Regions from separate parts of the Homo sapiens genome. Here region 1 is linked to region 2. The links come from fine-mapping of genetic effects on gene expression. A gene starts in region 2. The other region holds a variant in brackets. All regions are shown on one strand. Distances are from middle to middle.

Region 1 (16,039 bases), 33 kb before region 2:
TGGCATACAATTCATTCGTTTTCTTTAACATAAACCCTCAGAACTATTGTGAATGGAGGGTGTTTGTATGTGTACCTTGTTTTTATTTATTGGTTTGTTTATGTTTCAATCCACTGAAAACAAACTTCATTGTTGGCCTTAGCTGAATCTTAAAATTTTTGAAAAGTTCTTTTCAGTCTTATGAAGTCACAATCATCAAGCCTCCTTCCAGAGTGAAGCATTTGCTTTTTATTCTGTATAAAAGTGTTAAGCAATTTTTTCCCTGTGAAAGTACATTTTAAAAATATTCTTATTGAGATATAATACACGTACCATAAAATTCTGCCCCAAAACCTTCTTACACACAAGCTTATACCCTCTCTTGCAGACATAAAACTCTACATGCTCTAACAGGCTTCCACAATTCTCCGGAAGTGCTTCCCCATCCCTCACTTACTTTAGTAGACTTTCACAGTAAGTAAAGAGTCCATATTTTTAAGCTGTCCTGTATTTTGTTTTATCTTTCCTTTACTTCCTTCTCATTCACTCTATAAAACTTACCTATCCGATGTATGAAGCCATCAGCTCTGCCATCCCGCAGCTCTGGATTAATCATGGCAAGGCGCTAACCGATGGAGATCAGTAGGAGAGGACTAGAAAGCTTTTCATGTACATCACTTATTTAGGCACTGAGCAAGCTTCAGTCAAAAGAGACTTAACCAATCCAAATGGAAAACATCAGTACTAATTTTAGATCAAAGATAAAAGTAGGCAGACTTGTTAGTTTAAGGAAGGAATTTAAAAATTAACTCATCCATAACAAAAGGATCGTAAAGTCAATCATGTAAACACCACAACAACCGTGCTATGGAACATTTCCATCATCTTTCTTTTTTTCCTTGTGTAATCACTATCTTTTCTGACCCTGGACCCTGGCAAGCATTACTTTGCTTTATATCAACATAGTTTTTCCTTTCATGGAATTTTTTTTTTTTGAGGCAGGGTCTCACTGTGTTGCCCAGGCTGGAGTGCAGTGGGGAAAACTTGGCCCATTGCAACTTTGACCTCCTTGGCTCAAGCAATCCTCCTGCCCTACCCACCCAAGTAGCTGGGACTACAGTCGCGCACCATCATGCCCTGCTAATTTTATTTTTTGTAGAGACTAGGTCTCATTATATTGCCCAGACTGGTCTTGAACTCCTGGGCTTAAGTGATCTTCTGGCTTCAGTCACCCAAAGTACTGGGATTACAGGCATGAGCCACCACGGCCAGCCCCTTTCATAGAATTTTATATAAATGGTATCATATAATATGTAGTGTCTTGTCTCTTGCTTATTTCATTTATAATACTTTTGAGATTCACTCAAGTTGTTGTGCAGGTAAGTAGTTCATTCCCTTTTATTTCTTAGTAGTATTCCTATTGCATGTTATACCAGAAATTATCTCTTTGATCACTAGTTGATGGACTTTTGTTTCTAGGGTGGGACTGTTATGTATGAAACTGCTGTACACAGGCATTTTTGTGTGAGCAAGTTTTCTCTTGGATAAATTCCCAGAAATTGAATTGCTGCATCATATAAGTATGTTTATCTTTATAAAAAGCTGTAAAACTGGCTGGGCGCGGTGTCTGTCACCTGTAATCCCAGCACTTGGGGAGGCCGAGGCGGGTGGATCATGAGGTCAGGAGATCGAGACTATCCTGGCTAACACAATGAAACCCCGTCTCTACTAAAAATACAAAAAATTAGCCGGGCCTGGTGGCGGGTACCTGTAGTCCCAGCTACTCGAGAGGCTGAGGCAGGAGAATGGTGTGAACCCGGGAGGCGGAGCTTGCAGTGAGCCGAGATCGTGCCACTGCACTCCAGCCTGGGCAACTGAGCAAGACTCCGTCTCAAAAAAAAAAAAAAAAAATTTGCTTCAGCCTGGAATCTTTGCTTTTGGTGCTTCGGTGCAGAGACAGAAAACGGGCACTCAGAGTCACACTGGTAGTTGCACACTGTATCTGCAGAGGGCGTGTCTCATCTGTACCCCGCTGGGTTACGGGATTTCAGGAGGTATTTTTGTCCACCTGCGAATTCCATTTATTACCTTTCATTTAACAGACAATGTCTTTCCTTTCTGCAGTTGATTTTGCTAAAGAGGCAATTCATAAGGTGAGGTCCTACTCATAGTATGACTTGCTTTCTCACGACCTCCTTCCATTTTTAGTAACTCCCTGGTCTATTTGGTGTCTGTAAAAAAAGAATCTGGTAATGGAGACTTCTTTTAATATGGAAATTTGGCCTGGCAATAACTTATTCCTTTCCACATGTAACTGACCCAATCTGGTTTCCAGATGACAAGTATGCAAGCCCCAGATGTTGAGAAGCCATATTTCAACTGCTTCCTGCATCTGTTGAAATATAATTGTTCATACTTGCCATCCCTTATGTTTCTTGTAACAATTTGCACAGTTCTTGCCAGAATAAATGCCATTCTCTGTATGCTTCAGAGAATTCCGCAATTTGATCAGTGTGTGTGTGTGTGTGTGTGTGTGTGACCTTCCGTAAAACACTTCTAAAGGGTGAAAGCTCTTGTATGGCATAGACATGAATTCCTTCCTCTGGTAATAATTAGGTTATTTCCAGAAGCACAGTGTCATTTTTTTTTTTTTTTTGAGATGGAGTTTCTCTCCTGTGGCCCAGGCTGGAATGCAATGGTGTGATCTCGGCTCACGCAACTTCCACCTCCTGGGTTCAAGTGATTCTCCTGCCTCAGCCTCCTGAGTAGCTGGGATTATGGGCATGCACCACCATGCCTGCCTAATTTTGTATTTTTAGTAGAGACGAGGCTTCTCCATGTTGGTCCAGCTGGTCTCGAACTCCTGACCTCAGGTTATCCACCCGCCTCGGCCTCCCAAAGTGCTGGGATTACAGGTGTGAGCCACCATGCCCAGCCCATTCTTTAAATAAAAGCTTTCCTGTTTAAGGCTTTTCAAAGGAGCAGACCACTTTGAAGATTCTCCCTAGGGTTGATATGTGTCTAATTCATTTTATAAAATTATTCTTATCTTCATTTTAAAGCTTTGGCTATACAGTCAGAAATGTCCTGGATAACAAACTATTTTGTATTTAATTTAATTTGCCTCTTCATTGTCTTATTCAACAAACATTTACAGAATGCCTAATTAGTACTTGGCATTTTTCAGGGTGCTTGAAATACGTCTGTGAACAAAATAGACACAGATTCCTTTACTCATGGGGTTTCCATTCCAGGAAGTTTAAACATAAAGACTAAAGATAGTAAACAAATGGTACAATATTCCATATTCCAGTATGTAATAAGTTCCACTGAAAACAAAAGATAGACCAGGTTAAAATTGATTAGTAATGTCAAGGTTGAGGAGTGTGAGCTGCAATTTTAATAGGGTAGTCAGGGTAAGCATCACTGAGAAAGTGAAATGTAAATGAACTTTGAGGAGGGAAAGTGCCATGTGGATACCATCATCCTGGTGGAATTGTGTGAAGATCCTAGGGCAGATGTATGCCTGGCACATTCCGGAAAGAGTGAGGAAGCCAGCTGTGTCTGGAGGAGAACAGTGAGAGAAGAGTTCAGCTAAGTACCAACAGGGTAATTCTGTTTTTGCCATTCTGAGGCCTGTGGCTAATATTCTAAGTGAAATGGGAAGATGGAAAATTCTTTTGAGCAGAATAGCGGTGTGATCTGACATACATTTAATATGTTCACTCTGGGTACTGTCCTCAGAATAAGTTGGAAGGGGATGCAATCCACTCACCTAGCCTGAATAACTATACTTAAAAATGTTCAAAGTTCTGCTCATGTTCATAAAATTCAACCCGCAGCCCATTATTTGTTCCTTTCTCTTTTCTTCTTTACCTGTCAAATTTTCTCCACTGGGCGCTCTGACTCCTTTTAACATTATTTCTATTTCAGTACAGCTGGATAGAAATGTCATCATTAGGAGATGCAAAGCGGTCCCCTTCTAATGTGATAGTCACCACTCCAGAGATGGCTAATGGAGATGTTTAATGACCTTAAAAATGCATAAGTCTCATTCCCCATCCTCCTTTTGCTAACGATGGTCATTTTTTGTAGCACAATAATCTGAAAATTTTAGAATTATTTTTGTTCTTGTACAGTACAGCATGTAAATTATAATTTAACAACACCTGCATTTAACCTGCTAACACGGTTTACACACTATTAAATCCCGGCCCCATAGAGAATGAGAAGATGAGATGCTGATAAAATTTGCTTCTGATGATGCTGAACATACCATCTATTTTTTCTCTTCTTTTTTTTTTGAGACGGGGTCTCGCTCTGTCACCCAGGCTGGAGTGCAGTGGCGCGATCTCTGCTCACTGCAAGCTCCGCCTCCCGGGTTCACACCATTCTCCTGCCTCAGGCTCCCGAGTAGCTGGGACTACAGGCGCCCGCCACCCCGCCCGGCTAATTTTTTCTATTTTTTAGTAGAGGGTAAGGGGTTTCACCATCTTACCCAGGATGGTCTCCATCTCCTGACCTCGTGATCCGCCCACCTCAGCCTCCCAAAGTGCAGGGATTACAGGCATGAGCCACCGCACCCGGCCAACCATCTATTTTTTCAATATTATTTTCCACATTGTTTGAATGTCTGTAATGTGTGTGAGACCCAGCTGAATTTAAAATGTGGTTCTACCATTTACTATAATCCCAGGTAAACAATCTTTCATTTGCTCATTTATTTCAGCAAAAAATGATAAAAATTCTTCATCATTTAGGGGTAAAAATATTTAGCATAGTTCATGGTACAAGTTAATACTCAAAAGAGAATTACTCATTATATCAGGAAATGTAAAAGCGAAGAAAAGAAAACTAGGCCAAAGTAAAATATTAAGAGGTGCAGAGACTTTAATATCAGCCAGATGTTAACCCTTGCCCTCTGTCCTTCTGAGACCCGTGTAAGTATTAGCTGGAATCTAAACCCCATAGGTTTGTGGGAATCCGGAGAACTCTCCATGATTTCTTCAAGTCACCAGGGCTTCCTTCTTCGTGGTCCTCTCCACTTCTAAATACTCACGTTTTGCTCCCATGACTCATAGCACAAAACTCGATTCTTTCACTAGTTTCAGCAACGACAGCAACAACAAATCCACTTAATGTAAATAATTCGCTAGTTTCATAACTTGACTAAAGACAAAACAAATAGATTAATTCTTTATTTACTGGACCTCCTGAGAAATAACTGAGCACAGCCTCGAAAATAGAACGTAAATTTCATTAGCCCGGTTTCTAAAACACGTGCAGTGTGGAAGGAGTAGAGGAAGTGAAACAAGCTGTTGCTCTCCTCCTATCTTTCTCCAAATTTTACCTCAGGACCCTGATGGCAGGAAGAAAAGGACACTATGTGACTTCAGTGCCTAACAACACAGTCCTGGAAGTTTACGCTGTTGATACTATAGCAAACATTGTAATCATTTTGTGAGGGATTGGATTCTTCCCTTTATACTGTAGCATAAACATTGATATATCAATGTGTTTAGCCATTTAGAAATTATAAAGAAGGGGAGTGTAACTGACATTTCATTGAACATACCTTTCATATATTACAAAATTGGTCTATTAATGCTGAAATAAATGTTCACATTTGGCCACTCTTTATCACCATCACTGTAGTGAAACAGGTATTCTTTACTCAATAGATTACGATACACATAAGTAAACAAATAAAATCTAAAGAAAAGATTTCCTACATTTATATTTTATGCCATACATATAAACATGTGAAATTCAAAATTCAAAACGGAGGAAAACAGGATGGTTAATCATGATACATTTCTGGTTATACTGTAATTATTTGGGGGAACTTCACAGTACTGGTGTACACTTTCCTAACTTCTAGGGTAACTTCAAATTTTTATCCTGCCCATTCCCAAAATATATGTGTATTTTTATGCTTATCCAATCCATAGTGCCAACTAATAACAACCGTTATGGGCTGAATTATAGGCCCCCAAATTTCATACATTAAGTGCCTAACTCCCAGTACCTGAGAATGTAACAGATTTGGAGATAAGGTATTTGTTTTTTTTAAAAAAGAAGTGATTGAGGTAAGAAAAGGTCTTTAGGGTGCACCTTAATCCAATATGACTGATGTCCCTATAAGAAGAAATAAGTTAGACACAGACTTGAGTGTGTACAGAAGGCCACATGAACACAGAGTGAGAAGACAGCCATCTGCAAGCCAAAGAGAAGGGCCTTAAAAGAAACCAACCCTACTAACACCTTGATCCTGGACTTAACGGCCCCCAGAGCTGTCTTTGAGCCACCCATTCAGTGGCATTTATTACAGCAGACTTAGCAAATTAATACACCAATGTTAACTCCTGTCTCATTTTTTGATGGGCCTGTATATAATATGTAATGCCACATTAAGCTGTTAATATTTTCTTTCAAGAAAATATAATATTATGTTTTATAGTCAGAAAGTTTAATCTGTCTTTTTTTTTTACATTTTTCAAAGATAAAATATAATATTGGGTATATTATCCCTCTCAAATCATTGTGCATTTTCACCCCAAATTGAATGTAAATACAATAATCATAAGAGAATTTTCTCAACTTTAGAAAGTTCCGCTACTAACTTTATTATATTATATACAACATGTAATATCTGGCATGGAGTGCTACAGAACCAGTATCTATTACAAAGTGGGCAGTCAATAAATGGTAGCTAGTGGTCACCTTTAGTTCACCAAAGAATACTGAGAACTCAATATCCTTTATATGACCTTCTCCACCCTGACGTTGGAGAAATTTGTAAGTGTTTTAAGAACAAAATAGATTCTAAGTGTATGATGAGTTTTTTCAAGCTATGGAATATAAAGAAGTTCTTGAATTTTAAACAAAGGTAAACTGAGGCAAACACGTTCTCTTCTTAACTTACTCTTGTGCATGTCAGGCCACTGGTGGGTGCGGAAAGTGTAGGCTTCAGTACACTCTCTAATGCTCTCCCATCAATGAAAGGCCAAAGGAACAACAACAAAAAAAACAAAAACAAAAGGCAAGGTCCCAGGTCCAAAGAGGAAAGGATCAAACTGCTTAGACTTGCATCCAGTTCAGGATAAAGGGAACACTTGTGACTCACATGTGGTATATACCAATTCCATATATATACATAAATATTGATATGTGATGCCAAACCCTCACTAAAAACCGTAACTTTGTCTAAATATTCTCTTTGGCATCTATTTTTTGAGGGTCTTTTGGGGGGATGATGTGGAGGAATCTATGGAGGAAGCCAGTTATAGACTCAGAATCTTTACCACGCTTTACACATTTAATAGTAAATACATGTTAGTAAGGCTTACCAATTGCTGAATGTAGCTCCATCTGCCCACATCCACGTTTTGTTTGCATTGTGCTTGCTCAGTTCAAACCAATATAAAGACGGCCCCAGATAATGCATCAAAGATTCCCTTTACAAAATACAGAGTGCTGTCATAGATTTCTTCTAGTTTTCTCATTCTCACTCCCTCCAGTGCCCTTTAAGTCTATTATTATCTTGCACAGTTACTGCAAAGGCCGTATAACATGATTCCCTCCGTTTACATTTGAGACTCAGTAGCCAACCTCATCACAGCAAAGATTATGATTCTTTTAAAACTTAAGTCAGATCCTATTACATTTTCCCTCATAATTTGGCAGTATCTCCCTATTTTGCTTGGAGCAAAAACTAAACTCTTTACAATAGCCTGCAAGACCCTAATGATCCGCATTCTTCACTCAATCCCTCATTTTAGATAGATTGACTGGCTGCTTCTTTTCTGTTCCTTGAATATTCCAGACATTCACTGGCCTTAAGACACACGCTCCAGCCATTTTCCTTTCCTGGAAAGTTCACTTCTAGATAGTCCCTTACCTGCTTCACATCCTTCCTAAAATGTCACCATCTTATTGGGATATAACCTTACCTGCAGTAAACCCACTCCCTTAATTTTCATTTTTTTGCATAAAACTTTCCAACTTCTAACACAATATATAAATTACATATTTAATAAGATAATTTTTCATTGCTTATCTCTTCCCCTAGCATGTAAACTCCACAAGGGCAAAGATCTTTGATTCTTTGGTTTGCTAATGTATTACACCCTAGGAGTGTGCCTGTCTTTTAGTAGCTATTAAATGAGTTTAATATTGCAAAGAAGAAATCTAACCATTTCATTCTGAGAGTTGAGCCTGGCCAGAGATCCATAACTTCTGCAGTTTTCTCAGCCATTGATCCACGTTGTTTCATGTTCAGATTGAAAGAAGCAATTATTATTGATTCAGTTCCAGCCTTGTGGACACATAGTCAAATTTTCTAGGCATGTCTTGTTTCTAAGGTGCCTTGGAATTCCAACTGAAATTAACAGGTAATAGAGAAAAAGAATAAAGAAAGTATCAAAGAAAGAAAGAGTGAGCTTCAGAGTAAAATATTATTATATAGCTCAGACTAATAAAATGTGTTTTACTTACATATTCAATTTGAATGACTTAACTTTAAACATCAATTCAAAAAAATTGAATATCGAGAAGAGAACATGAAAGGAATAAGCACTGGAGAATGAGAGCTATGAAAAATTTAAAAACTCAATAACAAACTTCCAGAAATTCAGTATCTTCCAGCCATTTTCCCTCCTAATTTTTAGACTACATGAATTTTCTTTATTCATCTATTTCTTTCCTAAAATTTACTATGCTCTCTAGAACAAGTTGCAGTGTAAATAAACAAATTTTTCTATATTCATAACTTCAGTGAGCTGGTTCCTATCATCAACTTAACTGAGACTATATTGTCTTTCAAAGACAGCATTTCTCTAGAAGGTGGC[G/A]CTGTTTCCTTGTCCGTTATGAAACAAGAAACACAGAAAAAAGAATGCTAAAATTTCCCTTTTTACTCTCCACTTTTACTCCTTAAGTTACTGCACTAGATAAAGGAAGTTCCTTGTTAAGGTATAATCCTGAAAGAAACAAGCTCTGAGAGCACCTCCTATCCACAACTAAAATAAATGACTGGTTCATCTTCAAATCTGTGAGTGGGAAAATCCTCAATGGGAAGGATCAACTGGCAATATGGTTCTATATAGTTGAGACCTGAGAGTGAAGTGAAAAAATCAAGTTATCAAAGTTATTTGAATGTGTCATGTTCAAAATTATTTTAAAATGTCAAATTCAAATCAATAACCAATATAAAAACCAAATACTTAATTCAAAACTTGGGTCACCAGAAAGGCAGTTTTCTCATTCATTTACTAATTAATTCATTCTTTCATTTACGCAGTCAACAACTACCGATTGAGCACCTGCTACACGCCAGACATTTTTGTAACTCTATGAATAGCCTACATAACATACAGAAATACCTACTCTTATGGGACTTATGCGTCTGAAATTATATAGTTTGTCGTAAAATAGATCAGAGTGAAGGAGAATCAGGGAATCACGGTTGTTGGTAAAATGAGTAGAAAGCAAACCACAAGAATATGGCGTCATGTAAGTCAAATGAAATTTTTTTTTTTTTTTAGAAAAAGGGAGTGCCAAAAGCTGCAAATAGGTTATATAATAAGGTGAGGAGGGAGAATGGACCAGTCGATTTAGCAATATGGAAGTTATTGGTGAACTTGAAAGACAAGTTTGGTGGAAAAAGCAGAGTGGAAGCTTGATCCAAGTGGATTTAACAGAAAAAGGAAAGATAAAAAATTATTTTGAAAAGCCGTTTTAAAGAGGTTGCTGTACCAAGGAGAAAAACAATAAATTGGTTGCTAAAAGATAAGTGGGGTCTAATAAATTCTGTTGTTTTTGTTGTTTATTTTTTCAAGGTTGATATAGATACCAGTATGTCATATTTGCTGATGGAGATGTTTCAGTTGAGGATGAAAAAAGGATAATGTAGGAGAGTGGAGAATTACTAGGGTGATATTACTGATCCAGTGAAAGAATATAGGATCTATTGTAGAACATGAATACTGCATCTACAGTTCCAGGAGTCTAGGCAGAGTGTAGGGGCAGAGATGGAGTAAGTAAGCTGGTGTGGTGATGGGAGCATTTGGAAGTTTCCTACAAATTGTTAAAATTAGAACAAGTTGGAAGCAAGGGTATAGACATGAGAATGAGCATGAGGAGAATGGAGATGAAGGACAAGGTATAAATTGCTAATGAATGGCAGTGAAAGAGTTAATGCACTAGGGAACTATAATACAATTGCCAGTCCCTCACCCTACTTCTTTGTAACTCCATCATAATTATACCTGGTGTGATTCTCTGACATGTGTGTTCTAAGATGATCTTTGATAAACGCCTACTTGAGTTTAAGATTCAGCACAAATATTTCTCCCTTCATTAAAGCCTTGACTACAAGCAGCTAACTTATAATCTCCTCTCCTGCTTCAAATTCAACATAGTTCTATTTAGTAATTATTTCTTTTGTGTTACAGTTGTTTGCTTACATGCTTCCATATTCAGTTAAAGATAAACTACTTTCAGGCAAGAAATACCATTTTTTTTCATTGTTATATCATCAGCAGGCAGCACTGTGCCTAAAGCTTGATACATATTTATTGAAAGACTGATTATTCTAGAAGGTGAAGCAGGTGACTAAGTTTGAAGAGCAATTAGATGCACTGTCTTGGAAAATGCTTTTATCTCTAAATTGTTCTATATTAAGGAAGGAAAGACTAGTTATTGGTATCCAACTGAATCAATAATACAATAATTTTAACAATTTAATTTAATAATTTTAGCAGAAATTGTTTACTTACATTTTCTGGGAAATCTTAAAATCCCCCAAAGAAGAAAAGCAATGCCTCCACATATAAAAATTGAGATGATCATTATTTTCCTTTCTATTATACCAAAGAGAAACAGATGTCATTGTTTATGTTCCAGAGAGAAAAAAAGCAAGCAAACCAACAAAAAACCCATCATGTTTATCTCTTTTCTCTATCTTCCGCGTGTTCTACTGTTCACAATTCAGCAATTAATGTATTAGAAAAATAAGAAAGGGAACTAAGACCTAACGTTTGAACATCAGGAGCCTCGAAGGTGCTTTGGCTCCACTTTCCTGTGCTATTTGGCAGAACTGTGTTACTAATTCTTCTGCCCTGCTTCCAGAACAGAAAACCAACAGTTTCCTCGCAGCGTCTTTTAATAAAATACTGCCTTTTCCAAGGGAAAATTCCAAGTATTTTTAATGAAATACTGTCTTTTCCAATATGATGGAGGAGGCTGGAATCGCCAATTATCATTATTATTGAAGTCTTTGTTTTATTAATGAAAACTGCTTTTACTTAAGATCTATATTATGGTCGCTATCCCCTACCCTGCCCTTCCCTCCCAATGCTAAAAGGGTGCAAGCTAGGATCAAGAAAAGATGCTAGAATAATCACACAACCTCACCCACCTGGCGTGTTGGTCTGCTGCTCCACAACCTCCGTCCCATCCTTACTCTCCATCCCTTCTCCCTCCATCTCCAACCCTCACGAGGAAGGCTCATCCTTCTGTGTGTGATCACAGAGGCTGGAATAATCCTGCGGGTGAATTGCAAATTGCTAAGTATATTTGGTGAGTGCAAACCGCAGGAAACTGACGACCCGGTTTTTCTGAGGGGTGGTGCGGCAGCAAGACAGTAGGAGAAACAGCACAGCAACCTAGCATCCTCCACTCAGCCGCGCAGGTGGACTTGGGCCAGATGGCCCCCAGGGGCGTGTCATGTGCCTTCTCTGACGTTTGTACGAGGCAGGGGCAGCAACGGCAGCCGGGCATGCACCAACGGTGCCTCTGCCCCGGCAGCGATGACTCTACAGCCCATGATTTCCGCAGCCCACGATTGGCTGGGGCACAGCGATAAGAATTCAACCTAATGGGCACCTCACCTCCCACCTGCTTGGTACGCAGAGCAGAGAATGGGGAGTCCCATACCCTCCCTTTCCGGCTTCTTTATATTGTCTCCCTAAAAATCTCCGATTGGACACAGGTATATAACATAAATTGCCTGCACTGGAAAGTGTACACATTCTCTCACGCCACAAAGTGGATCTGCCCCCATTTTCTTGTTTTTAATAACTTTTTTCTGTTCTACATTTTTAACCACTGTGTTCTAAGTGTACCTGTGGAGTGTTTAGTAAAATGTGGGAAAACAAAGCCATTGTTTTTACATGTTTTCATAGGAACTAATGAAAGCTTGTTTCATATACAGGCAGTTTTTATTTTGCACTGTAGTGTGTGATAATAAAAATTACTGCACAAGCTGATATCACACCAAGCTATTTTAATAATAGGGAAAAGTATGATTTTTCCTTTATCCTCTTTTCCTGATTGAAAATTACTTTACTGTCACTCATAAACGTATAGGGAAATGTAAACAACAATAAAATTAATATTTTTAAAGTATGCTATAATTAAAACATTAAAAACACTGAGTTTCAAGTGTTTTGCTTAAAAGAAAATGAGTAGTGTGAATTGAGTACGTGCTGTTGTTGTTCTATCGCTTACAATATGGAGCCAGCATCTTTTAGATGCCTTCTCAAGCTTTTTTATTCCTAAATTTGGATAGACTTCCAATATACTATTCTTTGCACTTGAAATGTTAGGAAACACATTGAGAGTTCATTTGATGTGAACACTTTAGCTCGTATAACTTCCTCTGGGACCTCTTCATTCTTTTCATCACAACCACTTACCTTATTTTTGTCAATAAGTGTGCCTTTACTAAATTCCTCTGGTTGCATTATCTAGAGACTCTTCAAAAGGTGAATTATTAATAACCCTATCAACAGCTATTGCTTCTCTAACTTCATTTCTCTTCTATTTTATTTCCCCTTTCAGCGCCATCATTTTTTGCTGCACTTTGTGTCACTAACCAATTTCCTGTTTCAATTACCTTCCTCTTCTTGTCTTCCTGTTTCAAATTTCCTTTGGAATTTGTCATACAGTGACAAACCCATGTGACATTTACAAAATAATACAGAATAACTCTCCATCTTATTCTGTATTAACTGATAAAAGATGCATGGTGACCAATCAATCATTGACAGACTTGGAAAAAAGTGACATGGTTGGTCGTTAATCACAATACAAACATGTATATAGTGATTCGTGAACTGAAAAACTAGCATGGAAGTTTCTACTTTATACAATTACTTACAGTAAATATAATACAAATACAGATAAGTACGCTGAAAGAATTAAACTGTGCTGTTGGGGAGTTATTTAATTAAACTGTGAGAAGTGAAGTTTATGCATATTAGAACCACGCAAAGTAAAGTTTATACACACACCCTACTCCCCACAGACATTCTCTTTAAAATATACATATACGGCCGGGCACTGTGGCTCACGCCTGTAATCCCAGCACATTGGGAGGCTGAGGCAGGCAGAGCATCTGAAGTCAAGGAGTTTGAAACCAGTTTGGCCAACATGGTGAAACCCCGTCTCTACTAAAAATACAAAAATTAGCCTGGTGTGGTGGCAGACGCCTGTAATCCCAGCTACTCAGGAGGCTGAGGCAGGAGAATCGCTTGAACCCAGGAGGCGGAGGTTGTAGTGAGCCGGCGTCCCGCCATTGCACTCCAGCCTGGAGATATATATATATATATAAATTTTCATATATATATATAAATTTTCATATATATACACACACAAATACATATACAAACACATACATATGCATGTATAAGCATATATTGTATGTGTATAGACCTTATTCTATACATAAGAATTATTTATACTTATTTATGTAATGTATTCTTGTGACTTCAGTAATTAATTAGCACAGATTTCAAAGCTATAAATGGTAGAAATGTGGTATCTCACAGTTCTGGAGGCCAGAAGTCTGGAATAAAGAGGCTCTGAGGAAGAACCTGCTTCACACCTCTCTTCCAGCTTCTGGTGGCTGCTGGCAATCCTTAGTGATCCTTACCATGAAGTTGCACCATGCCAGTCTCTGCCTCTATCTTCTTAATGAGTGGAAAATAGTTCCTAGAATTCAACTAGAAGATTTCTCTCATTTTTCATTTACCTTGACAGACCATATATTCCTTCTTAAGATGATAACTTTCAAGAGGAATAGAAACAGTATGACTGGCTTAGATTAAATTCAACCAAATCATTAGAGATAAGATCAACCTCTCCCTCATAGAAGCAAGTATATATATGGGGGCGGGGGGATTGTTTTCTTCTTACAATACTCTTAATATTTCACCTCCTACACCAGATGTGTAGGGAGGGGGTTTCTCCTCAAATCAATAAATTATCTAGGGCAGGGGGCCCCAACCCTCGGGCCATGGGCCAGTACCGGTGCATGGCCTTTCAGGAACGGTCCATGGCCTTTCAGGAACAGTCCATGGCCTGTTAGGAATGGGGTTGCACAGCAGGAGGTGAGCAGCAGGCAAGAGAGAGCAGCTTCATCTGTATTTACAGCTGCTTCCCATCACTTGCATTACTGCCTGAGCTCCACCTCCTGTCAGATCAGCTGCTCATTAGATTCTCATAGGAGTGCAAACCCTACTGTGAACTGTGAATGCAAGGGATCTAAGTTGCATGCTCCTTAGGAGAATCTAATGCCTGATGATCTGTCACTGTCTCCCATCATCCCCAGATGAGACCGTCTAGTTGCACGAAAACAAGCTCAGCGTTCCCACTGATTCTACATTATGGTGAGTTGTGTAAGTATTTTATTATATATTACAATGTAATAATACTAGAAATAAAGTGAACAAAAAATGTAATGCACTTGAATCATCTTGAAACCATCTTCCCCCACCCCAGGGTCTGTAGAAAAATTATCTTCCCTGAAATCGGTCCCTGGTGCCCTATTGGGGCAGCAGTTGGGGACTGCTGCTCTAGGGGACACCCACTGTATGTCCTATAATTCAATTCAATTCTGACAGTATCCACCTGGAGTTAGCATCAAATTCCACAGATCAAGGGCTCACTCCATCAAGACTGCCCTCCACTTCAGATGCCAGTGTCAAGTCTGGGCCTCTGGAACTGCTGACCAACCAGCTACAGATTGAGGGTTCCCTCGACCCCTCATCACACTTGATTAATTTGATAGAGAGGCTCAGAGAACTTGGAGAAACACTCAATGTTTACCAGTTTATGATATTAATAAAGGGTACACATGAACATCCAGATAAAAAGATAGTTGGGGGAGGTCTGAGAGGGTCCAGAGTGCAGGAGCTTCTGTCCCTATAAAGTTGGGGTGCATCATCCTCGTGGCACATAAGTGTGTTTGTCCACCTGGGAGTTCTTGTAACCCTGTATTTTTGGGACTTTTATGGAGGTTTCATCATGTAGACATGATTGATTACTCTTTTTCCAGCCCCTTTCCCATCTGTGACTAATGTGGGGTAGGAGTGAAATGTCTAAGCTTCTAACCATGTCTTGGTCTTTCTGGCAACCAGCCTTCATTTAAGAGCCTACCAAGAGTCACCTCATTAGAACCAGAGATATTCCTATTGCCCAGAACATTCCAAGGGATTTAGGAGCTCTGTGTCAGATGCTCCTATCACTCTGGCAATTACAAAGGTGTTAGGCACTCTGTGTTAGGAACCAAGGTTAAAAACCAAATAATAAAAGATGTCCCTAAGCACCCCTACTGTTCAGGAAATTCCATTTTTAGAAGCTCTGCACAGGAACTAGGGACAGATATATAGATATAGATTATATAGATATAGACAATTTCATACACACTCGCTCTCCACTGACAAAATTAGGATTCTACCTGAAATATAGAAGAAGAGAATGGATTTGGATACATAACCAAAAACAGTCTTATTGCCAAAATATATATATTTTTTGAGATGGATTCTCACTCTGTTGCCTGGGCTGGAGTACAGTGGTGTGATCTCTGCTCACTGCAACCTCGGCCTCATGGATTCAAGCGATTCTCCTGCCTCAGCCTCCTGAGTAGCTGGGATAACAGGCGCCCACCACTACGCCCAGCTAATTTCTTGTGTTTTTAGTAAAGATGGGGTTTCACCATGTTGTCCAGGCTGGTCTCGAACCCCTGACCTCATGATCCACCAGCCTCAGCATCCCAAAG
Region 2 (17,548 bases):
TGCGAGGCAAAACTGGAGAAGCAAAGTAAAAAGATGAGAAGGAGTGCTGAAAGGGGTGTCTTGTACCCAGACTCCTGGGGATCCAGCTAGGGCAGCAGCCATCAGAGGTTGTAATGGGGACTGGTGGGGTAACTGCGTAGAGGGGGAGGTTCGATTTTCATGGTGTATGAGAAAATGTTGAGTGTCTATGAGCTACCTTTCACTGTTATTTATGGGGCTGGGTATAAGTAAACAACAAGAGGGCTTTGGAGATGAAGAGTAAAGGAACATCAAAGTGAAAGGTTACCCAGGGGAATTCCAGTGGGTCTTTGCTGAGAGATACATAAAGGAGCAGCCACAGGAATAGTAGTTTGTGTTGTGAGAGGTAAATACGGGGGGAGTAGAGTTGATACAAGGAGAAAGGTTTTTTAAGTAAGTGTGGAGGAGGGCGGCAGCTTGCTGACGTGAAATGTCTGGGGAGGTCTAGCTGGACCTGTCTAGAAAGTAAATGAGTTCATCAGGAGGGTAAAGGTGAGGGCTGTTAAAGGAAGTTTGGAGGTGTAGGAGACAGGAGATGTTGCCTAGTCTGCATGTAAGGTGGGGACAGCTGTGTAGGCATTGGAAGAAAGGGAAATGCAAAGCTAGAGTTTGTTCGCTAAGGAGGGATTAGAAACAGCTAGGAGAGAATGAGTAATGTTTATAGTGTGGTGGAGATAGCTGGGGAGAGGTAGAGGGTGGCATAAGAATGGGAATGAGAATAAGATTGAGTATAAAAGTAAAGAATAGAACTTCATCAGGGTGAAAGTATTGGAGGGTCCCCTGCCAGCAAAGATTATCTATCCCCTCTGAGAGGGAGTTAAGAGTTGCCAGTCCTGGGTGGGGGCAAATCCTCGAGCTTGATGTGTAGGGAAAGGAGGGGGCCTGAATAATCTATGAGGAGGAGTAGAATAGTAGATGGAACAGAAGTTATTTCCTTGAGGATAGATTTCCACGATGGAAAGGAAATGAGAGGTTCTAAGAGGTGGGCTGGTGACTTGTACTATAGCATAGCCTGCCTTTGCTGGTGTGTGGCGATTAGGCCTGGTGGAACTACTATGAATAAACTAAGTGTGTTCAGGGTGAGGAACACGAAAGAAGGAAATATGAGGAAAAGGGGTGAATGTCAGGTGAATCAGAGAGATACAGTCATAGGGGTCAGGTGTGGTATCCAGAATACTGTGGGAGGCTGGATTGAAGTCTGGGCCAGGAACAATGGTAATTGTCAGAGACTTAACAAAAAGGGAGTGTAGCTGAAGGAGCCAGGGAGCAGAAAGTGTATGCGTCAGGTGGGAGAAAGAAAATAGATTTTGGAAATTATGAGAACCGTAGAGAATGAGTTGGGCATAGTTTGTGATTTTTTGGGCCTCTAAAAGTATTAAAGCAGCGGCAGCCACTGCATGCAGACATGAGGGCTAGGCTAAAATGGTAAGGTCAAGTTGTTTGGACAGAAAGGCTACAGGGTGCGGTCCCAGCTCTTGTGTAAGAATTCTGACTGCCCTAACCATGCCTAGGAAGGAAAGGAGTTGTTGTTTTGTAGAAGGGATTGGGGTTTGGGAAATTAGCCGGACATGATCAGCAGGGAGAGCACATGTGTTTTTATGAGAATTATGCTGAGATAGGTAAGAGATGAGGAAGAAATTTGGGCTTGACTGAAGTAATGGGGGCTGTCTGTGAAGCCTTGCGGCAATACAGCCTAGGTAATTTGCTGAGTCTGATGGGTGTCAGGGTCAGTCCAAGTGAAAGTGAAGAGAGGCTGGGATGACGGGTGCAAAGGAATAGTAAAGAAAGCATGTTTGAGACCCAGAACAGAATAATGGGTTGTGGAGGGAGATATTGAGGATAGGAGAGTATATGGATTTGGCACCATGGGGTGGTTAGGCAAAACAATTTGGTTGATAAGGCACAGATCCTGAACTAACCTGTAAGCCTTGTCTGGTTTTAGGACAGGTAAAATGGGGGAATTGTAAGGGGAGTTTATAGGCTTTAAAAGGCCATGCTGTAGCAGGAGAGTGATAATAGGCTGTAATCCTTTTAAAGCGTGCTGTGGGATAGGATATTGGCATTGAGCGGGGTAAGGTGATTAGGTTTTAATGGGATGGTAAGGGGTGCAGGATCAGTCGCTAAGGAGGCAGTAGAGGTGTCCTATACTTGTGGGTTAAGGTGGGGAGATACAAGGGGAGGATGTGAAGGAGGCTTTGACCTGGGGGAAAAGGTGGCAATGAGGTGTGGCTGTAGCCTAGGAATAGTTAGGGAAGCAGATAATTTAGTTAAAGTGTCTCAGCCTAATAAGGGAACTAGGCAGGTGGGGATAACTAAAAAGGAGTGCTTAAAAGAGTATTGTCTAAGTTGGCACAAGAGTTGGGGAGTTTTAAGAGGTTTAGAAGCCTGGCCATCAGTACTTACAACAGTTATGAAGGCAAGGGAAACAGGCCTTTGAAAAGAAGGTAATGTGGAGTGGGTAGCCTCCGTATTGATTAAGAAGGGGACGGGCTTACCCTCCACTGTGAGAGTTACCTAGAGTGTCTGTGATGGTCCTGTAGGCTTCTGAGGTGATTGGGCAGTGACAGTCTTCAGTTGTTAAGCCGAGAAGATCTGGGAAGGAGTCAGTCAGAGAGCCTTGGGGCAGAGTTCCAGGGGCTATGGGAGTGGCTGCCGGTGAGATGGACAGTCTGATTTCCAGTGGGGTCTTGCACAGATGGGACATGGCTTAGGAGGAATCTTGGGCTGCGGGCATTCTCTGGCCAGGTGGCCAGATTTCTGGCACTTTTAGCAAGCTCCTGGGGGAGGCAGGCCTGGAGGAATGCCTGGCCACTGTGGTTTAGGCGTTTGGAAGTTCTTGCGTGCTGGAGATGTGGCTGGGGTTTGTCTCACAGTGGAGGCAAGGAATTGCAACTCAGAAATATGTTGCTACTTTGCTGCCTCTACTTTATTATTGTACACTTTGAAGGCGAGGTTAATTAAGTCCTGTTGTGGGGTTTGAGGACTGGAATTTAATTTTTGGAGTTTTATTTAATGTCGGGAGCAGATTGGGTAATAAAATGTATATTGAGAATAAGACGGCCTTTTGACCTTTTAGGATCTAGGGCTGTAAAGCGTCTCAGGGTTGCTGCCAAACGAGCCATGAACTGGGCTGGGTTATTATATTTGATGAAAAAGAGCCTAAACGCTATCTGATTTGGGATAAAGAAAAAGGAACATTAACCTTGACTATGCCTTTAGCTCCAGCCACCTTTTTAAGAGGAAATTGCTGAACAGGTTGGGGAGGGCTAGTCATGGAATGAAACTGTAAGCTGGGCCAGGTGTGAGGAGAGGAGGTGATAAAAGGATTACAGGGTGGAGAAGTGGAGGCTGAGGAAGAATTGGGACCTAGCTCGGCCTGGTGAGGAGGCGAGAGGTCACATGGGTTTGTAGAAAAGGAAGATTAGAAAGACTCAGCGATGCTTGGGGTTGGGACTGAGGGGACAGGCGGGAGGGAAAGAAGGAAGATTTGGGATGAGTTGCATTGGGAACAGAGACTAGGGAGGGACCAATGTGTAAAAGAATGCCTGGACGTCAGGCACCTCAGACCGTTTGCCTATTTTACAACAAGAATTATTTAGATCTTGTAGGATGGAAAAATGGAAAGTGACATTTTCTGGCTATGTGGAACTACTGTCGAGTTTGTATTGGGGTCAAGTGGCATTGCAGAAGAAAATAAGGCATTTAGGTTTTAGGTCAGCTGTGAATTGAAGAGGTTTTAGGTTTTTAAGAGCACAGGCTAAGGGAGAAGAAGGGGGAATGGAGGGCGGAAGCTTGCCCATAGTGAAGGAGGCAAGCCCAGAGAGAAGAGAGAGTAGAGACATGGAGAGAAGGGGTTGGGGGTTCTTGCCCCCAAGAAGAGCGGTACTTGCCGCTAAGGGTGAAGGAGAAGGGGTTGGGGGGTTCTTGCCCCCCAGAAAAGCGGAGAAGGGGTAGAGACATGGAGAAAAGCGGTGGGGTTCTTGCCCCCCAGAAAAGCAGAGAAGGAGTAGAGACACGGAGAGAAGGGGTTGGGGGTTCTTGCTCCCAAGAAAAGCAGTACTTGTCGCTAAGGGTGAAGGACCAAGGCAGGTGTCCCCACATGGTCAGACACCTCTGAAACATGGGTGAATAATCAGGCAGGCATCCCTGCCTGATTCCAAAGGGAAGACTGTCTTCCCAATTCCGTGACTGGTGCCGGAGTTTTGGGTCTATGAATAAAACGCGTCTCCTTCATCTCTGTCAGAAAAGGAAAGGAACTGAAATTAAGAGAGAGATTGAAGGGTGATGCCAAGATTGAAAGGAGAAAGAGGTTGAGGGATAGTGAGAGAGGTTGGAGAAGAGAGTAAAAAGAGGCCACTTACTGGATTTAAAATTGGTGAGATGTTCCTTGGGCTAGTTGGTCTGAGGACCAGAGGTCATAGGTGGATCTTTCTCATGGAATAAAGAGCAGGAGGACAGGGGATTGATCTCCCAAGGGAGGTCCCCTGATCCGAGTCACAGCACCAAATTTCACTCGCATCCGTGTGAAGAGACCACAAAACAGGCTTTGTGTGAGCAACAAGGCTGTTTATTTCACCTGGGTGCAGGTGGGCTGAGTCTGCAAAGAGAGTCAGCGAAGGGAGATGGGGTGGGGCTGTTTTATAAGATTTGGGTAGGTAAAGGAAAATTACATCAAAGGGGGGTTGTTCTCTGGCGGGCAGGAGTGGGGGTAACAAGGTGCTCAATAGGGGAGCTTTTGAGCCAAGATGAGCCAGGAGAAGGAATTTCAGAAGATAATGTCATCAGTTAAGGCAGGAACAGGCCATTTTCACTTCTTTTGTGGTGGAATGTCATCAGTTAACGCAGGAACCGGCCATCTGGATGTGTACATGCAGGTCATAGGCATATACACAGGCATATGATGGCTTAGCTTGGGCTCAGAGGCCTGACAATAACAACCCACAAAAAATATATAATTTAGGTAATGGATAATGTATCACTTATGTTTAATATTGGAAGACATCTGTAATTATATTTGCAGATTGTCTCTTAGTATTCAACTAGAATGAAAATTGATATAGGTTGATTTCATATCTTGTCTATTGCAAATAGTGCTGCAATAAACATGGGAGTGCAGGTATCTATAGTATATATACACAATGGAATATTATTTGGCCATAGAAGGAAATGAAATCCTGTCATTTGCAGAAACAGGAGTGGAACTGAAGGTCATTATGTTAACTGAAATAAGCCAGGCACAGAAAGACAAATATCACATGTTTCCACTCATATGTGAGAGCTAAAAGAATGAATCTCATGGAAGCAGAGAGTAGAATTGTGGTTACCAGAGGCTTAGAAAGGGGTGGTGGGGGATAAAGATAAGTTGGTTGGGTACAAAAATAAAATTAGATAGAAGGAACAAATTCTAGTATTTGATAGTACAGTGGGAAAACTATAGTTGACAATAATTTATTGTATATTTCAAAATAGCTAAAAGAGAAGAAATGTACTATTCCCAACAGAAGGAAAAGGTAAGTGTTTGACGGAATGAATATTCTTATTACCCTGATTTGGTCATTACACATTGTATACAGGTTTCAAAATATCACATGTACCTCCAAAATACATACAACTATTTTGTATCAATAACAAAATTTTTAAAAAACTGATATAGGCTGTGAAGGGCAAACCATGTAGTCATCTCAGAGCTCAGCTTATTCTTGTGGATATAAATGTTTTAGCTGGCTCTAAACCAAGGATTTTGTATGAAGTAATACTTATTCAAATATTTTCAACAAAATAGAGTACCTTGCAAACAGGACTTTGAGATTTTTCATTTGTTTCCCTTTACAGTTCGTCATATACGCTTCATCTTCTAGTGTTGATTGATGAAACAACGTTCCACATGAGACAGCAGAGCAATAGAACACAGAACAGGACTCTGCCTGTGTGGTGGCCGGTTTCCATCCTTTCACAAACAAAGAGATATTTATAAACAAATATTTATATGCAAATATTTGATCCACCTAGGAAAAATAGAGGGCTACTCTTTCCCACCAGGAGAGGCCTTATAGCCTGTGCACATATTTGAACAAGGCAACCAGAGACTTTGATGGTCTCAACTCTACCACTCACCAACTGTGTGATGTTGGATACAAACTTAACCACTTTGCAACTCACTTCCGCATCTGTAAAATAAGGGTGATAATAATAGCACCTGGTTTAGAGAGTTGTAAAGATAAAAGCAACATTAGTAAAGTACTTAGGATGAAGTAATCATGTTTTGAATATATTTTCCTTTAAATGTGGCTGCCAATATTTTCATGGTAATATTTTCAAATGTATTCAATAGCTTTTTCTTTATCAGGAGAAAATCAGTTGTTTTAATTAAATTGACATTGAATTTTTGATACATTTAGGAGAATTTAGTTTCTTTTTATACAGTATTGACGCTTCTAATCCCACAGCATGTTTTTCTATTTTTTTCTTTTCTTCAATAGTTTTAAAATTTTTTTGTTCATTTTGGTTATGCAAATATCTAGTTAATTTCTATCTGTAATATTTTCCTATTTATTTTTAGTAGCTCTTATAAAGGGAGCATTTTGTTTTTCCTGTCTATCCTGACATAATAAAGCAATTAGTTTTTAATTGATTTTTAAAAATATTTATGCATTCTCTTTCATATGTATAATAATAATACCTAACCATTTTATGATTTACATGTGGCAATGTCAAGAAGAATTTTAAAGTAAGATTTACTAACGAATATTAGAGAACATGCTCAAAAACAGTCCTCTCCACCCCCTCACTTCCACTTGCATTCTTGATCAAGAAGTGAAATAAAAAATACTAAGACTATTGAGTCAAACTAATAAGACACAAATCTGGACTTTGGAGACTCATTTCCCTCCCACTTTTGATAGCTTAGCTGAGGAGGAGATCAAATGGTTGAGTCAGTCTGTAGAGAGATAGCAAGGCTGATTATAGTTTTCCTGGCCTGCAAAGCTGTTTCCAGAGCCCTCAGTATACAGACCTTGGCCATCAGTATGCATACTCTCTGGTGTGGTTTCTGGGCATCAGATCCCTTAATATATAGGTTGGCGCTAAAGTAATTTTGTAAACTTTTAATGGCAAAAACCACAATTACTTTTGCTTTTAATGGCAAAAACCAGAATTACTTTAGCACCAACCTATATATTGTTATTTAGAGAAACTAGGCATTCCCTACCTCTCTTAGGCAAACCTATAGCTATGTAACATGGCAACGGAATGACACTAACTGTCTCATTCTCCTTGGGAGTGCTCTCTGTATGTTCAGTCTCCCAGTGAAGAGAACCCTTCTATCAGGACCTTCATCATCATACAAAAGGAATATCTATGCCAGGCCACAGCTGCAGATTAGTGAGTGTCTGAGAACTGCATCTTTTCTGTTATTTTTCTGCTTGAAAGTTTTTCACCAATAAATCCTACACTATGTCTGCACCATGTGGTGCTAGTTATTTGTGTTCTCTTGCATGACACTGATGATGTTATCCAAACACAATTTCAAAAACTACTTTCTGTAGTTGGTAAATATATAGAAATTGAGAAAAAGGAAGAAATATGAGGAAGAAAGATGTTATCTGTTGCAACAGTTCAATGTTCTTAACTGAAGCCACAGATGAGATTTGGCTCATTTGCAGACATATGGGTGATTGGTACAGTAGGTTTATAAACAGAAGTTTAAACTTGTAAGCTTAAGCTTCCGTTTATAAACAGAAGTTTAAAATTATAGGTCCTGTTTAACATTCAGCTCTGTTAACTCACTCATCTTTTTGTGTTTTTACACTTTGTCAAGATTTCTTTACATATTCATCAATGTCTGAAGAAGTTACTTATGCAGATCTTCAATTCCAGAACTCCAGTGAGATGGAAAAAATCCCAGAAATTGGCAAATTTGGGGAAAAAGGTAAGATTTTGAGTTATGGATGTGTTGTAAGTTTGTATAATAGAAGTGGTTATAGACTTGCATCTTCAATATTAGTGATATAGTTACTATTCAACTTAAATTTTCAATTAAGTCTCTTATGTTTAAGCAAAGGAACAAAAAGTGTATGAACAAAATGATTAGAAAAAAGGGTTTTGTAAAAACACTTATCTCTGCATTGAATAATCAATCTTTTACATTTTTGAAATTTTTTATTATCACACTCAATATAATTGGGACAGAATTTTTCAAATGATTGGGTTGTATGAAGATTTTATTTCTTTATGAGATGAAGCCATGGAAAAAGAAACATGTTCAGGAAAGTCATGATTTCATATGTGTGTGTGTGTGTGTGTTTTTTTTTTTATAAGAAAATGCTTTGTGTCAGACAGAGAGACCTTTATAGGATTTCATTTGACTATCTACCAAACTAAGCATAAATCACCCTAAAATTTCTCCTACTTCTTTTGGAGATTTTTTACTAACTTACTAAAAAATAAAACATGTTAAGTTAAATGAAATGAATCATTAAGGAATAAAGGAAGAAAAGAGGTAAAGAAATATCAGAAGACATAATATATTCATAATATTCAAAACCACATTATATCAAGTAACTTTGTATTTTTCAATTCAAATTAAAATCATGAAATAAGTGGTCCATCTGTGTTGACTTTCACTTAAACAAAACTACTCTTCATCTTACTCAGAATCCTATAGTTTTCCTATTATGTATGGTTCTTGCCTTCTGGCTCCTAGCCTTTTGGGAGTGAAATCTGCCCTAGCGAATCCATAGTTTAAATCAGTGTATTTGAGTTAAAAATAACTTAAACAGTGATAGTGGAGAACACAAAGAAGGGTGATAGAAACAGAAAAATAAGGAGAGAAGAGTGCCAAAATTCTCACATATTATTTAAGTTGTTGTCCTCTCTCCTCTCCCCACACAGAATATAACATCTTTAATATTCTAGCATTGCTATAAACAGAAATTTCACTGTTACATCTTGGATCCATTTATGATGAGCATTGTAAATCTTGAGAAAGGATAGCAGATTAATTCTGTTGGCTTCTTTTTTAATACTGAAATTTTTTTTTAGAAAGAAGAAGGGTTTAAGAATTTTACAATATTTTCTGTCTTTATTTCCTTGTTTATATTTCTTCTTTTATACACTGAAAGAGAATGGGCATATCATGAGCCTAATATTACCAACAATTGCCCTTTACTTGTCCTCTCACACCCTTTCCCACCTCTTTTCCTGCCAATCCACCTTAAGTTCCCACCACAAGAATTCCCTGAATTCACGGAAATATTGAATCCATGTCTTCTTCATGTTCTTAATCTCATCTAATTTTCTCATTATCGAGCTTAGAATCTACATTATGTAATATAACATTGTATTATGTAATGTCTACTCTTAGTCTCTTACACTTCTCCTCTTCAATGTGTGTTAATTTTTCCTTAAAAACTCCAGCTCTGGCTAGGTGCAGTGGCTCATACCCATAGTCCTAGCACTTTGAGAGGCCAAGATGGGAGGATTATTTGAGGCCAGAAGTTTGAGACCAGCCTGGGGAAAGTAGAGATATGCCATGTCTATAAAAAAAAAATTTTTTTAATTAACTGGGCACCCATAGTCTCAGCTGCTTGGGAGGCTGAGGAAAGAGGATTACTTGAGTCCAGGAGTTGGAGGCTCTAGTAAGCTAAGATCAGGCGAGTGTACTCCAGTCTGGGTGACACAGCAAGATCCTGCCTCAAACAAATCAAAACAAAACAAGACAAAAACCCCAAAAACAAACAAATAAAAACAACTCCAGTTCTGGTTAAACCCGAATATCCACCCAGTCTGCCCCAGAGTTGAATATTGCTGGTGAAAAATACACAAATTTTCAACCCCAGTTACTCTCACCTTTCCTCTGGTAAGAAAAAAGCATCCATCTACACTTTTTTTTGTTGTTATTTAAATGTCTATCCTACCATGTCCTTACTGATACTCTGCTTTCCTTCCAGATAGTATTTACGATAAGTATGTACTTATGAAGGGACGGCTCCTCATTTTGCTCTGAATTTCAGTCCATGTGTCGTTTTCAAAGACAGACTTCCGTAATTTTTTCCTTTCTCTCCTGTGTCATTATTCTCTCTTCCTTCTCTGCTTTTCCTTTTTGGTGCACCAACATACTCTACTACTCACCAATATACTCTGCTACTCCTTTTATAACAAAACACAATCCTTGCTTGACCACTTAAGCCTTTCCATTATTATTTAACTTCTTTGTTTCCTTTCACAACTCAACTTTTGAAAGCATTTTCTTTGGCCACTGACTCTCAGTTCTTCACCTCTCATTCTGTTCTCAACCAACTCTATTAGGCTTCTGCCCCCTTGGTGCCATAGAGACTGAGCTTTAGGTCACTGATGTCCTGCCTGTTTCATCCCAATAGTCACATGTCTCTTCCATTACTTCACTTCCCTGCAGCATTGAAAAAGTTGAACAGTCCTCTAAATGCTTTCTTTGCACATCCCTCCTGACACATCCTCATGGCTTCTCCTGTCACCATGCCTGCCTCTCCTCATTCTTTGTTGATTCCTCCTCCTAGATGAAACTCTACAAGATGGAATACTCTGAAGCCCTGTCCTGGGTCCCGTTTTATTGCATCACTCAGTACACTCTTCTAATCTACCTCATTCAGTTGTTTGACTTTAAATAGAGTGACTCCCCAATATCTCTGTATGACCTTTCCCTGAATCTCAAGACTAGAAAATACATGTGCCACTTTCACATTTCCATAAGGAGTTCTAATCTCATTTTAAACTTAAAATGTCAAAAATAGTAATATTTATTTTTCTTCTAAAATTGTCTCTCTCTCCAGACAGCCTCATCTCATTAAATACACATATAAATATATATTTAAATACAATTTTCAAGTGTTTTCTCTGTGCCAGTTCTGTTCTAATTGCATTATAAATATTAAATTATTTAGTGTCTGATACTTTGCAGTCTTTCTGTCTCCCATGCTTTAACCATATTGAAACTCAGACACAGAGATGTTAAAAGGTGTTAAATAATTTTCCCGAGGTTTCACAAGCAATAAGCAGCAGAACCAGAATTCAAACCAAAACATACTGATATGGTTTGACTGTGTCTCCACCCAAATCTCATCTTGAATTGTAGCTCCCATAAGTCCCACATGCTGTAGGAGGGACATGGTGGGAGGTAATTGAATCATGGGAGCGGGTTTTTCCCATGCTGTTCTTGTGATAGTGAATAAGTCTCATGAGATCTGATGGTTTTATAAAGAGGAGTTTTCCTGCACAAGTTCTCTCTTGTCTGTGGCCATGTGAGATGTGCCTTTCACCTTCCACCATGAGTGTGAGGCCTCTCCAGCCACATGGAACCATGAGTCCATTAAACCTCTTTTTACTTATAAATTACCCAGTTGTGGGTATGTCTTTATCAGTCGTGTGAAAATGAACTAATGCAGTAAATTGGTACCAATAGAGTAGGGCGCTGCTGTAAAGATACCCAAAAATCTGAAAGAGACTTTGGGACTGGGCAACAGGCAGAGGTTGGAATACTTTGGAGGGCTCAGAAGAAGACAGAAAAATGTGGGACAGTTTGGCACTTCCTAGAGACTTCTTGAATGGCTTTGACAAAAATGGTGATAAGGCTGAGGTGGTCTCAGATGGAGATGAGGAATTTGTTGGGAACGGGAGCAAAGGTGACTCTTGTTATGTTTTAGCAAAGTGACTGGTAGCATTTTGCTCCTGCCCTAGAAATTTGTGGAACATTGAACTTGAGAGGGATGATTTAGGATATCTGGCAGAAGAAATTTCTAAGCAGCAAAGCATTAAAGACGTGACTCGGGTGCTGTTAAAAGCATTCAGTTTTATAAGGGAAGCAGAGCATAAAAGTTCAGAAAATTTGTGGCTTGACAATGATAAATAAAAGAAAATCCCATTTTCTGAGGAGAAATTCAAGCCAGCTGAAGAAATTTCTAAAGTCATGGGAAGCCAAATGATAATCGCCAAGGCAATGGGGAAAATGACTCCAGGGCATATCAGAGGTCTTCCCAGCAGCCCCTCCCATCACATGCCCAGAGGCCTAGGAGGAATAAATGGTATTATGGACTGAGCCCAGGGTCCCTCTGCTGTGTGCAGTCTAGGAACTTGGTGCCCTGCATCCCAGCTGCTCCAGCCATGACTAAAAGAGGCTAAGGTACAGCTCAGGTCATGGCTTCGGAGAGGGTGCAAACCCCAAGCCTTGGTAGCTTCCATGTGGTGTTGAGCCTTTGAGTGCACAGAAGTCAAGAGTTGGGTTTTGGGAACCTCTGTCTAGATTTCAGAGGATGTATGGAAATGCCTGGATGTCCAGGCAGAAGTTTGCTGCAGGCATGGGGTGCTCATGGATAACCTCTGCTAGGACAGTGCAGAAGGGAAATGTGAGGTCAGAAGCTCCACACAGAGTCCCCACTGGGGTACTGTCCAGTGGAGCAGTGAGAAGTGGACCACCGTCCTCCAGCTCTCAGAATGGTAGATCCACTGACAGCATGCACTGTCCACTTGGAAAAGCTGCAGACACTCAATATCAGCCCATGAAAGCAGCCATGAGGGAGACTGTACCTTGCAAAGCCACAGGAGCAGAGCTGCCCAAAGACATGGGAGCCTACCTCTTGCATCAGCATGACCTGGATGTGAGATATAGAGCCAAAGGAGATGATTTTGGAGCTTTAAGATTTGGTGCCCTTTGGACTTGCATGGGGCCTGTAGCCCCTTTGTTTTGGCCAATTTCTCCCATTTGGAATGACCGTATTTATCCAATGCCTGTACTCTCATTGTATCTAGGAAGTAACTAACTTTCTTTTGAATTTACTGGCTCATAGGTGGAAGGGACTTGCCTTGTCTCAGATGGACTGTGGACTTTTGAGTTAATGATGAAATGAGTTAAGTCTTTTGGGGACTGTTGGGAAGGCATGATTGGTTTTGAAATGTGAGACATGAGATTTGGGAGAGGTCAGGGTGGAATGATATGGTTTGGCTGTGTCCACACCCAAATCTCATCTTGAATTATAGCTCCCACAATTTCCACGTGTTGTTGGAGGGACCTCGTGGGAGGTAATTGAATCATATGGTAGGGGTGTTTCTCGTGCTGTTCCTGTGATAGTGAATAAGTGTCATGAGATCTGATGGTTTTATAAAGGGGAGTTTCCCTGCACAAGTTCTTTCTTCTCTTGTCTGCTGCCATATGAGGTGTGCCTTTCACCTTCCACCATGATTGTGAGGCCTCCCCAGCCGCGTGAAACTGTGAATCCATTAAACCTCTCTTTCCTTATAAATTGCCCAGTCTTGGGTATGTCTTATTAGCAATGTGAAAATGGACTAATACACATGCTAACCCTAAAGATGGTGTTTTGCTTTTTATCACTATGAGATACTGCCTACAAATGTGCATATCTACCAACTTTCTCTAAAGAAAAATTTCAGAAATTTTTGCAATAGATTTTAGCTTAGAAATGTATACTTAATTTATCCATGGGTCATCAAATTCCCTAGTACTAGCTAGTCAAACTTCTGTTCTCTTTCACATGTCATACTGTAACAGATTTCTTACTGATAAAACAACTCTGTTATTTTGCCCTCCTAGATTAAATTCTTCCAGTGGTTTCCCCAAAAATCTAACTTATTCTGGCTAGAAAAGGCTGTAAATAATGTCTCCTCCTTGTTATTTTAAAAACAAAACAAAAGAAAACAAATAAAACCTTTAACATCATTTTTCACATTGGCCACAATTCTTCTGCCCCTCTGAATATATTCTGTTTTTCAAATAGAAATCTTTTCCTTAAATTATTGTCTTTGAACTTCATGTAATTGCTACCTGTAATGTTCTTCCTACTTATTTTGCATGCTGGTTCCTATTCATAAGATTTGAACTGCCTGCTCTCTATAACAGCTTAGTTTTAAATCTCTGCACAACATCGCCAAATTTGAGATCTTTTCTCCCTTTCTTTCTTTCTCCCTGTCTCACTTATATATCTATTTATCTATTTCCTCCTACAATTAAAATTTATAGCTGTGAAAACAGGAACTTGTACATCTTGCTCACTTTGATATTGTTAGCACCCAGGATAATGTCTAATAAATACAAGGCACTCAAAAGATAACTTTTGAATAATTGAACTTTTTAATAATTGAATAAGTTCATTGAATAAATAAACTTGAATAATTGAATACACATATAAATAAGAAAATAATTTTAAGAAAGATAGCACTGGCATTTATAATTCTAATCTTAGATAAAATCTTGAACATGTAGTTCTTTCAGTAGTAACTATTTTCTAAAGTCTATATAAGTTAAGTTTTACTATTTATTAGTAATTGTCTCTGGATTTCACAATATTATTGCACCATCAACTATGAGATGTAAGACATAGCTCAGAAGTATAGTGAGATTATTATGGTATCCCTGAATTGGATTTTCTTGAAATATCTAGCTAGTCTTTACCTAATGTATAATAGCTTTATACATAATGATGATTTAAATAACATAGTCACAATAATAATTCACTCACAAAGTTTATAATTCCTGTTTTTTTTTTAAATAGAGAAATGATCTATTCTGGGCTTCACTATTCATTAAAAAGGAAGTATTCAATAAAAGTTTCTTGCAAAAACACATGAAAATTTTTTTGAAAAATTGCAATAAAAATGGTGTAGATCTGGACTGATTAAGATCAAAAGCTAACGGGAGGACACCCAAAGACATTATGAAAAGACAGCCTATCTTGTTCATTCTGCAGCTAAATTCTCATAATTGCCTGGGGGGATACATAAACAACTGAAACTGTTTTTCTTGACATGCCACAATTGTCTACTCAAGCAAAGACTTCTCCTATTGGCTTCTCTGTTAATTTCCAGCTACTCACTTTTCCCAAATTTGTACAAACAAAATACACTATATCTAGGTTGACTGGTTTTCTCCATTCTCTATTATAAATTCTGTTTTTGCTTATCTGTTTTTTTAAATCAGTCTACCAGTTAACAGCTTCTCCTGCCAGAATCAATTTACATACAAAACAATTAAGTGATTTTGATTTATTCTTGACATATTCTTCAAAAATATTTTTTGAATATTCTTGAATGGCTAGCAAATCCATTTCTTTCCAATAGGCATATTAGGAAATAAAGGTAAAATGAATGAATGAATGAATGAGTAAATAATCCAAATGAAAGTTATACCATTTTTAGGCCTCTCTGTTAATTTTGCTTTCCACAGCACCTCCAGCTCCCTCTCATGTATGGCGTCCAGCAGCCTTGTTTCTGACTCTTCTGTGCCTTCTGTTGCTCATTGGATTGGGAGTCTTGGCAAGCATGTGTATGTACTGCCCCTGTTTTTGTCAAGAGGAAGTATCTAGAATTTCAAATATTTAGCAACAAAAGTTTATTCCTTCAGTGGAAGATTTATAATAATGATAGGTGATAGGCCCACAAGGAGGACTTACAATGTGGAACTTAGTCTCTTTCCCTCACTCCTGTAGAGTAATTGCTTTCCCTACCCCTTTAATCTTTATACTACTTCTGCAAATGATAAAGGATGATGGCTCTATTGAGAATTTACAATTTTTTGTCATTTTTTTAATGTGGAGTTCACGTAACTTTGAAGATAGAAATGAAAAAAATGAACAAACTACAAAACATCAGTGAAGAGCTCCAGAGAAATATTTCTCTACAACTGATGAGTAACATGAATATCTCCAACAAGATCAGGAACCTCTCCACCACACTGCAAACAATAGCCACCAAATTATGTCGTGAGCTATATAGCAAAGAACAAGGTAATCTTGTATTCTCTTGGAGTTATTTATTGGACAATAAACTAAACCACTGAGTCTCTTAAGAATCATTTTATAATTAGCTAGCAGCCTTTCTCTAGGGAGTCATAATTTGGGGGAAAGAATTACATGTGGTTGATGGAGAATTCATTGATATTTCCACGCAGTTAGAAGAAAAACAGAAAAAGTAGTAACAACAATAGGCCCCCAAATTATCAGGAGATAATGGTTACATAATAAAATGTTAGACAAGACAGTTTCTCTAATCTGTCACTTACTATAATTATTCTGGGCACTGAGGTTAATAGAAGACAGGGAGGAAGTGACACCTCTTTACAGGTGACTTCATTCTTAAATTTCAGTCAGTGATTGATAACAAAGTCCATAGAAAAAAATAAATTGAGACTTCACCTTTGGGATCGGGGAGTTGGTCTTTTAGTGTCTCCATAAGTTTCTATAGTCATAGTTGCTAAAACATATTCCTTTTGCTCCTGAGAAACCTCAAAGTTTCAACATTTCAGAGAACAAAAATTAAAGAAGATAAGATTGGTATAGATAGGTGGGGTTAATTCTTACTATACAGAATGTTTCCAGTAATTAGTTTTTATTGTCTTTAAAGAATATACAAAATAACAAAGAGGAATTGACATAGGAAGACACACTTGAATCCAAGTGCTTAATTTGAAATTTTTTTGTTCAAGTTATGTGTCTGACACATTATGGTGGTATATAAGGAACTAGAATACAGGATTCACTTACTTCCCCTTCGATGTAAAAAAAAAAGAAACGGCATGTAATCCCAGCTACTTGGGTGGCTGAGGCAGGAGAGTCACTTGAATCCAGGAGGTGGAGGCTGCTGTGAGCTGAGATCACGCCACTGCTCTCCAGTTTGGGCAATAGAGCAAGACTCTGTCAAAAAAAAAAAAAGGGGGAAAGAGAGAAAGAAAAAGAAAGAAGAATAAACAGCAAATGTGATCAATGTCACACAGAGAGGAAAGGAAATAATAAGAATTATTATGACTATCAACAAAACCCAAATAAAACTATGTTCTTCTTCCAGAGCACAAATGTAAGCCTTGTCCAAGGAGATGGATTTGGCATAAGGACAGCTGTTATTTCCTAAGTGATGATGTCCAAACATGGCAGGAGAGTAAAATGGCCTGTGCTGCTCAGAATGCCAGCCTGTTGAAGATAAACAACAAAAATGCATTGGTAAAGCCCAGGTGTTTCTACCATCATGGGATAGAGAGGGGTGTGGCATGTTGGAGAAGACTTCAATCAACCCACTCATGATTCTGGTTTATTTCAGTTGGGGTGTGAAGTGACTGAAACTTTGTACACTTATCTCAAGATATCATAGGCAAGGTAAAACATACAAGTTTAGGACCTTAGCATAAGAGAAATATTACTAGCTGACAGGTAGATGAGTATTACAGGGCACCCAGAATCTATAGGTCTGTAAGCATTTCCAAATTAGAATCTAGAACCAAATCTCAGAACTTAATTTATAAACATTTATCTAAAAACAGAGGATACAGAGATTATTCCCCAGGATTAGCAATTCCATAAGAACTACATGGGAGAATATGTTTTGTTTCTACCATTTTGTATTTTTTAATTCACTAAGAGAAATAGGCAAGTTATAGTAGGTTAGCATAAAATATGTACAAACAAGAAGAACTGAAGTAAGATGGCACAGGCAAGTGTCAGATATATTGTACTGAGTCCTTGAATCCCAGGAAAAATGTGTTTTCTGGTAGCTTTATTGA

The links. PIP is the estimated chance that this variant, and not a neighbour inherited with it, causes the effect.
Region 1: its variant is fine-mapped to the expression of CLEC12A in whole blood (INTERVAL, PIP 0.91).

What each region holds. Positions count from the first base shown.
Region 1 is chr12:9,931,735-9,947,773 of GRCh38, forward strand. LINC02470 (long intergenic non-protein coding RNA 2470) reads right to left here and starts at 11,761. Exons shown (of 5, transcript NR_104634.2): 1 at 11,396-11,761; 2 at 10,755-10,838; 3 at 8,175-8,359; 4 at 7,329-7,436; 5 at 4,845-5,080. It overlaps CLEC2A (C-type lectin domain family 2 member A), which reads right to left and starts at 636. Exons shown (of 5, transcript NM_001130711.2): 1 at 541-636. The coding sequence starts at 595. The variant G/A (reference allele first, on the strand shown) is at 8,829.
Region 2 is chr12:9,963,743-9,981,290 of GRCh38, forward strand. CLEC12A (C-type lectin domain family 12 member A) reads left to right here and starts at 7,667. Exons shown (of 6, transcript NM_138337.6): 1 at 7,667-7,945; 2 at 15,224-15,322; 3 at 15,594-15,782; 4 at 16,840-16,991. The coding sequence starts at 7,855.